Regions from separate parts of the Homo sapiens genome. Here region 2 is linked to region 1. The links come from fine-mapping of genetic effects on gene expression. Tissue or cell type: adrenal gland. Region 1 holds a variant in brackets; the other region holds the start of a gene. All regions are shown on one strand. Distances are between the middles of the regions. Region 1 overlaps FSIP2-AS2 (FSIP2 antisense RNA 2). Region 2 holds the start of FSIP2-AS1 (FSIP2 antisense RNA 1).

Evidence for each region. PIP is the estimated chance that this variant, and not a neighbour inherited with it, causes the effect. A credible set is the group of variants that fine-mapping cannot tell apart.
Region 2: it holds the start of FSIP2-AS1, and the variant in region 1 is the best candidate, but not a certain one, in a credible set for the expression of FSIP2-AS1 in adrenal gland (GTEx, PIP 0.51).

The regions. Positions count from the first base shown.
Region 1 is chr2:185,730,649-185,735,058 of GRCh38, forward strand. All of the region lies in intron 1 of FSIP2-AS2 (FSIP2 antisense RNA 2), which reads right to left. Among named protein-coding and RNA genes, the nearest start is that of FSIP2, 6.0 kb to the right of the region's middle. The variant C/A (reference allele first, on the strand shown) is at 2,359.
Region 2 is chr2:185,797,709-185,802,118 of GRCh38, forward strand. It overlaps FSIP2-AS1 (FSIP2 antisense RNA 1), which reads right to left and starts at 2,442. Exons shown (of 3, transcript NR_144453.1): 1 at 2,372-2,442. It overlaps FSIP2 (fibrous sheath interacting protein 2), which reads left to right. Exons shown (of 23, transcript NM_173651.4): 17 at 1,989-4,410.

The DNA of each region.
Region 1 (4,410 bases):
ACAAGGCAGGGATAATTTGAAACCGCTTTAAAGGCTTCTTAACTACAGTAGACTTATTGAGGAATAAGTGGGAGATATTATTATTTGTATTAACATAGTTTTACTGGAAATTGATTATATAACAGTAAATTGCTTACTCTTCACTTATATATAAAGTTAATAAGCAGGAAGACTTGTTTTATAATAATTTTGGATATGTGACAAATTTTAAAAACAAACTGCAGCCATTTGATTAATAAAACAAAAATACTCATTTTGCTGGATAATATTTTCTAGCTATTTTTCAAACTTTTTCCCCCAAACACCTAACATATGTAACAGTGGCTGAGATTGTAAGAGCAATTTATTCCAATAATTAAAATGAAAAAAAGCTATAAAAAACAGAAAGTCCAGCCCCTCAATGTCTTTCTGTGATTTTAAGCTAGATAACATGGTACAATGATCAGGACTACATAGAGATGGGGCAGACTGATCACTATAAATCATTGTCTGTATTGATGCTGCCCAATCAATGATATCATAAGATATGATAATTTTAGAGATGAGAAAAAAAGCAAAGAGTTGAAATAAATAGGGTTTAAACACGGGCAATCTTACACCTGAGTCTGTGCTATTAAAATTGCACTATATATTCTTAATGTCTCTTACTACCAAGAAATTTTCTCCACTTATGATGTGGTATATGTCTCATTACCTTACATTTTAAGCTTAAACTAAAAATGTATTTAGCATGACTTTATTTTATATTTCACTTGTGTGTGTGTGTGTGTATGTGTGTGCATAGAGAGACAGAAGAGACAGAGAGAGAGAGAATAGATGAGTAAGTTTTCCAACCAATATTTAATCTGGGCCCTTTATTTAAGGTCTGAACTATTTAACAGGTCAGAAATCTGTGTTAAGTATCAGTTTTTCAACACCACTAAGATAAATATATTACAAAGCAATGCAAAGTATAATGCAAAGTACTTTAAAGACTGAGATGTTGGCAAAGATATATACCTCATATTATCAAAAGGTACTGTGTGGTTCCTAACTATATTTTTAATGTAAGTTTTCATTTTCTCTTTCTTAACAGTGATAATTATTTGAAAAATACATAAAACATCATCAAAGAAGTTATTTTCCAAAAATAAAAAAAAAATAAGTACTCTTAGTGAATCAATTAAACGAGGCTTGGTGGTTTCATTCCATCTGCTCTTCTGCAGATTCTGGAATCCTTTAGAAACTGACATACATCATGAAGATTCTGATATCTATATTTTTGTTGTTACTAGACAGACTCTTGAGCCCTCTGTCAAATTGATATCCTTAACAAAGTATTTAATGACATGCCAATATACCAGTCTTACCTCATCAGCAAGATGTTCTCTCACCCTTTGTCCTTAGTTAAATGGGTACTCATAAAATTCATGTCCACTCAGAACCTCAAAATGTGAAGTTATTTGGAAATAGACTATTTACATATGTAATCTGGCCAAAATAAGGCCATATTGGATTAATATGAGCTCTAATCCTATGATTGGTATCCCTGTAAGAGATGATAAATGTGGACACATGGACACACACACAGAGAAGCAGCCATGTGAAGACAGAAGCGGAGATTGGAGTGATATAAGAAATGCCAAGGATTGCCAGCAATCACCAAAAGCAGGGAAGAAATAAGAAAAGATTCTTCAAGAGAGCCTTCAGAGAGACCATGGCCTTGTCAATACCTGGATTTTGGACTTCTAATCTCCAGAACTGTGAGGGAATAAATTTCAGTTATTTTCAGATACCCAGCTTGTGGTACTTTGTTACAGGAGCTCTAAGAAACTCATACACTCTTCTAATGTGGTGTTTACCTTTCTGTGTGGAATTTATGTTAATATGCCCTTTACTATATCTGCATATACCAACTTGATAGCATTGAACCTTAATCTAGTTAACATTCAGCCTTAATTACTATAGATTTATATATCTATTCTTCTTTTCCTGTTTATTTCTCAGGCTTTTTTTAGATTTCACATTGTAATCATTACTGTACATTTCTGGAAAAAATCCTTTAAAATCTTTGAAACTTTCTGTCATTTTAGAATGTTAATGTCAATTCCTCAAGTTTCTTAGTTTCAGTCTATTGTATTATGAGTAATTCTATTACATTACAATATACTAGCTACTTTTACTAGCAATTTTAGATATGCTTTATGGGCAGGCTACCTTTTTAACTGTTAAATGAATTATGATCACTGCAATGTATTATCAAAACATTTTATTATGTCTACTTTCTGATGAATTTATTAATATTAATTATTTTAAACTATCAGATTAAATTATTGAAGCTGGACAATATAAGATAAAGTAGACAAGACAAGTAATTTT[C/A]AACAAAAGTTTACTTTTTATTTTTAATTTAAAAATACCTTGCTTAGAAAAAAAGAGATAAGGTTATTGTGAGATATCAGTCAACCAAATATTAATTAAAAGGTGGCATTATTAAGAATATATGTCAAATATTAGATGAAAGCAAAAATAATCAAATGAACTCTTACATATTCAAGAAATTAAGGAAGTATATATAACTACATACAAATTAAAATAAATAGAAAAGTTTATGGCTAGATTGAATCCACGTAAGAGTTCATTAATTAACTATTGTGTTTTAAAGAGTATAACTTAAATTGGAATGCTTTTTCTAAACTAAAACGATCATTTCTATTTTTTAGATTCAGAAATTAGCTCAGCTTAATGAAATAGACAAAAAATGGGGATCTGTGATGTTTAATTCTACATATCATTGTGGCTGAGATCCAGCACCCAGATATTTGGTCTAACATTTGGAATGTTTCTACGAGGGTGTTTTCTGGATGAGATTAACGTTTAAAACAGTGGGCATTGAGTCAAGTAGATTGCCCTCCATAATATGAGTGGGTCTCATCCAATCAGTTGCAGGGCTTAACATAACAAGTACTAATTTCCCCCAACCAAGAAATTCTGCCAACAGACTGCCTTTGGATTCAAACAGCAACTCTTTCTCAGCTTGCTGGGCTACTGGCATATGTAGATAGCTCTCTGTATATATATAGAGGAAGATACACACACACACTAACACACATAAACACATATCCCCTGTTGGTTCTGTTTTGCTTGAAAATCCTGACCAACACAGGATCCTAAAGATCTTGTATTTTATTTCTCAATTTGACATAAGGAGGTGGTAAAACCCAAACATTTAAATATTCTGCTTATATAGTTACATTAAGAAATGATAAATAAAAATGAAGAAAACCTGCGAGTATAGTGATTATTATATAAGCTAGGGCTTTGGGTTGCAAATAATAGAAAACCAGCCTGGCTAACCTAGACAGAAAAGATTTGAGAAAGCTCAGAGAATATGTAAGAAAGTCTGAAATAATCCAAGTTGAGGAAAATGGAAACACAATATAAAACCACAGATGTCATTGGATTAAAATATTGTTGCTTGTGCTGTGACCAGACATTAACCCTGACTTCATGGTCCTTAGCCTACAAGAATCTTTGAATTAATTCCTTTTCAGAATACAAAGTCACATGCCCTTGACCCTCCTCCAAGGCATGCCAAATGAAAATATGTGACCCGTCTTAATTTCAGTAAAAAGTGGGATTGAACATCTACCAACATTCATATATGCGGGATTTTCCCCAAATAAAGTAATTGTTGTCTAAAGAATTAAAAACTCTACATCGATTATCACAAGTAAAATTGAGTTGTATTTCCTCTTAAGACAGAGTAACATGGAGAAGATATGCCCTGAAACAGCTAAAAAATAAACAGAATATAGGAAGCAACAATTTTCAAGACACTAGATCAGGGAATGGTCAATGATCTCTGAAAAACAATAAACAAAAGAGGCGAGGCATATTGATAAAACTTGAAAGAACTTTCAAACCACAGCAGAGGGAAGGAGAATCCAGATGGATCCCATCTGACTCCCTGAGTTCAGAAGACAGAACCCAGAGCCCAGGAAGGCAGATAGAGCTAGAGCATGCAAAAGAAAAGTAGAAAGAGGACAGCTGCATGGAACGAGAACTTTCAAGATGTGCAGAGAATTATCTTTGAGTATTTCCTGCATATTTGTCAGAATACTGTGAGAAAACTACCATATGCCATGGAAAATATTCACTCAAAAGAGATAGTGCTGGGCTTTCACAAACAGCTGTAAACATTACCTGTTCCCACCAGCTAGGTTGGAAAAGTTTCTGATGGATGAGTCACTGGGTAGAGTTTGGAGAATAAAGCAATAATTAACCCTAAACTGAGGTGTCTTCTGATCTTCTCTAATAGATCTCAAAAGTAAGACTCAGAAGGAGAAAATTTTATCCTATAACTTTAGAAGGAGCTGATTCCAGCTATTAGTCTTCAAGTCTGCCAGCTGAAGTTCCAAACATCATAGAACA
Region 2 (4,410 bases), 67 kb after region 1:
TAGAAATAGTGTCTCTGTCACTGAGGCTAGAGTACAGTGGCATGATCATTGCTTCCTGCAGCCTTGAACTCCTGGACTGAAGACATCCTCCCATCTCAGCCTTCCCCCAAAATAGCTGGGACCACAGGCATGCCACTGCACTCTAATTTTTAAAAATCTTTTTGTAGAGACAGGGTTTTGCTATGTTGCGCAGGCTGGTCTCAAACTCCTGGCCTCATGTGATCCTTCTTTCTCGGCCCCTCAAAGTGTTGGGATTACTGGCATGAGCCACTGTGCTCAGCCTCAATTGCTTTTTAATTCATCACAATGCAAAAAAATAAAAATAAATAAATGTTTTCAGGATTTGAATTTGAAGGATGTGTTGCTCAGTTTTCTCTATCTACAAATGAGAGAAAATGAGGCCATTTTAAAGCAGGAGATTTTGGTTGAGCATGAGGCATAAATTTGGAAGGGTTTTTAAAATTCTTATGCATAACTTCTTTATAATCATATGGGATGTGCAGTTAACTGATTAAAAGTCATTTAATTTTTGTATTCTTGAAGGCTTTGTTATTATTATTCAAAGTTTAAAAGAACAGTAGAATTGAATATCTTGTTTTATTTGCATTCCAGTATTCTGACTTAAATTCCTTTTAGATATAATACTCCAACTGTATCATTACAGGGATTATATTTGCATTATCTTTCTAAGTATACTCATGTGTATATATTAGGTGAAACAACATGTAATCGTCATTTTGTATATCAAAAACAGTTGATTATTGACAATTAATAAAATTCAGTTTAGTATTACTATAATACCCCAGATCTAGGTCAGTAGTTTCAGTTACCAATAATTACTTGCTACATCACCAGTCCAGATACATCACACATCATTCTAATTGGAGATATTAGCAGTCCTACCCACCTGCACGAGGAGGTTATTTTCCATCCTTAAAACCAGTATTCTCCCAAGATGGACGGTAATGTAGCTACAACTACAAACTCTTAAATAGACTTACTCCAGGCATGACTTAATTGATTTCAGAAAAATAAACAAAAGCAAAACAAGCAAGAGAAGATCCATGATTTCATCACATTGACACTTGGCTCTAACAATTCTATATTCCTATTCTCAGACATCTCCAAGGTCTTCCAGTGACTTCGCTCATGTTCCTTCTTCCACTAGGAATACCTTTTCCTCATTCCCTGTATCTTGACATGGCCAAAACCTGTGTAGCAGTCAAAGCTCAGCTTAAAGTCTTCTATCTGTGTAGAGTCTTGCCTGATAACACATGAAGATATATAATATATAATTAAGTTCTGAGGAAAAAAACTGTGTTGCTCTTGGCTGCCACACCCAGCAGTTGGCCATTGCAAATAGGTAATGATTTGTAACAAATAGAATTTTGGACAAAACAAATATAGAGTTCTTCACCTGGCTGGGCCAACCTTCCTTCTTTGTGACAAACTATAATCTAGGGACTAAAGTACTACTGCTATTGCAATCTATTACTAGCTTTTCTGGAGTTGCCACACTTTTATTTTAGTCAACTTGATATTGCAACACAACTCCTTAATGTCCTAAAAGTAAAACATAGCATAACATTAAATGTTTTGTCTAAAGCTATTTTAAAATAATTATATGGCACCTCTAGGTATCACTGGAGACATGGTAGGATGCATCGCTAAGCCTGGAAATTATTTCTCTGCCCCAAGCTTTCCAGCTTCTTAAGAGTTCATAACCATCCAACCAAGGCAGACATCAGCATTTGACTTAGAGGATTGAATTTTGGGGTGTTATTTTCTCAATTTATTGGCTAAAATTAAGATTTTGCAAGGTGAGAAAATAAATGTTTGAGGAAAATCTAATTTCTTTTTTTGTTTAGATTTTTCTTTAGTGAGTTGCTCAAAGGGTGAAATATATATGTAAATAATAATTTCAAATATATTGAATTTTCTATATTTTCTTTAATCCATGCTAAAATTACAATGTTTCCTTTTTTAAGTTTTTAGTGAGGAAAAGATGTCTGTTTCTACATGGTCAAGGAAAAAATATGAATCAAAACAGTTCCTAAGAAACATATACGATGATTCTTCAATTTATCAATGTTGTGAACATCTCACTGAGTCAGTACTTTACCATTTAACTTCGAGCATTTCTGATGGCACCAAAAAGGGTAGAGAAAAAGAGAAAGCATGGGAAATTCAAGAAGCAACATTTAGCAAGATTATTTCAATTCATTCTCAAGTGTTTGAGAGCAGGTCAATTTCCATTGGAGAACTTGCTTTATGTATTTCTGAAATCATTATTAAAATTCTTTTTAATAATAAAATTATACAGGCTGACATTGCACAGAAAATGGTTGCCATACCTACAAAATACACTTACTGTCCAGGAATAGTTTCTGGTGGCTTTGATGACCTCTTTCAGGATCTCTTAGTAGGAGTGATTCATGTACTGTCCAAAGAAATAGAAGTAGATTATCACTTTGAAAGCAATGTAAGAAACAAATCATTTTCTATGCATAGAAATAATAGTGTACCCCTTTGCAACAAAATCAATAGACAGGCAAGCCCCAGAGACTGGCAATTTTCTACTCAACAAATTGGTCAACTTTTTCAAAAAAATAAGTTAAGTTATCTTGCATGTAAGTTAAACAGCCTGGTTGGTAACCTAAAAACAAGTGAATCCAAAGAAGTAGTCAATAAAGTTTTTAATATTGTTTCAGATTTATTTTCACCAGATGAATGCCTAGATACGGGTATGGATTCTGGTAAAATACAAAGAACATATTTCTACTCCTCGAATAATGAGCAACCTAATAGCATACTTACCAATAACCTACAGCTCTCCTCAAAATCAGTTTTTCTTCTCAATGTTGTATGTGAGAAACTTATCAGAATACTTTTGGAAGAATGCACAAGCACTGCTTTTCCTGATAAAGGGTCTGTTTCAGAGGAAACATCAGCAGAAGAATGTCAACTTTTAAAAATGCTTCAAAGTGTAGAAGATGGAAAATCTGATTATCGTAAGGGAGGAATGGACTGTGAATGCCTTCAAGTAGATTACATGTCAGACCTTTTGGAGAATGTGGCAGAAATTGATCAAGACTTATTGACATCAGACTCTATGCTTACTATTATTTCCCACAGCTTGGTTAAATCATTGATGGACAAATTATCTCACAGCATACAACAAGCTCCGGAAAGTCTACCTTTTGCAAATAAGCATTTGAACTACAGAACAAGAGAAATACAGTCTAGTTTCATAAAAGCAAGAAAGTCAGAATTAATAGAATTAGGACAGAGTAAAAGTTCTTTAGAACTCAGGAGCTATGATAGTAATTCTTTGACAGTATCCCTGAATAATCCCAGTGTGGTTAGCTCCAAAATACAAGCACCATTTAACAAGCATTGTGCAGTAAAATCCTCTTCTGTGTCACCTTTTGAAAGACAGAGAACAAAGGAAATGGATAAGGTAGCCATTCATAATAAGCTACATCAGGAAGGTATATATGCTGGTGTTTATTCAGCCACATTTTTGGAAGGAATAATTTCAGAATTGTTTTTTAATCTCTCTATGTCATTGTGGGGCAAAAATAAAAACATCACTGTGTCCTGGCTCAATGAGATGAATACATTATTTGTCAACAATGTAGTGAATGAATTTAATAATGCTCAAGTCACTGTTCTACGGAATGCTGAAGAAAGGCTGTGTTTTCCACCAGTTCATACAGAAACTGTTAGCAAAATTGTTGACTCAGTTTATTATGATGTTTTACAGCAGTATGAATTAAAAGTGGCCTGTGGTAATAATCCGGTATACGACAATGCCTCAATAGCAGAACAAATAACAAATGGCATATTGTTAGAGATTTTAGACTACAAACTGCCATCTTGCTTCAAGGAACATCTCATACCCCATTCATATTACCCTCTCAAACCTGAAATTATATTGCAAAAGCTTCAAAGTAACCTAACAGAATTTACTTCTCTACCCAGGTCTTCATCAGACTATAGTACCATGTTATCACATTCATTTTTAGAAGATGTCATAAGAAGGCTTTTATCTCAGCTAATTCCTCCACCCATTACATGTTCCTCTTTAGGAAAAAAATATTTAATGAGTTCTGATTTTAATGAAATGTCCACTTGTATAATAAATAAGGTTATGTCAGCCATTTCAAAACATAAAATCTGGTTCACTATATATGATAATCAATATCTATATACTGGAAAAAACCTCCAAAAGATGGTGGATTCTGTATATTGTAATATTTTGCAAATGTCTGACTCTCTTGTTTCAATACAAAAAAGTATAGTAAGCCGAAGCCCAATTATGATTGACCAAATAGCCAGCTTTATCATCCAAGAGATTATCGAAAATCATCTTCAACCATTTTTGAGTGGAGAGGTTTTATGTCATCC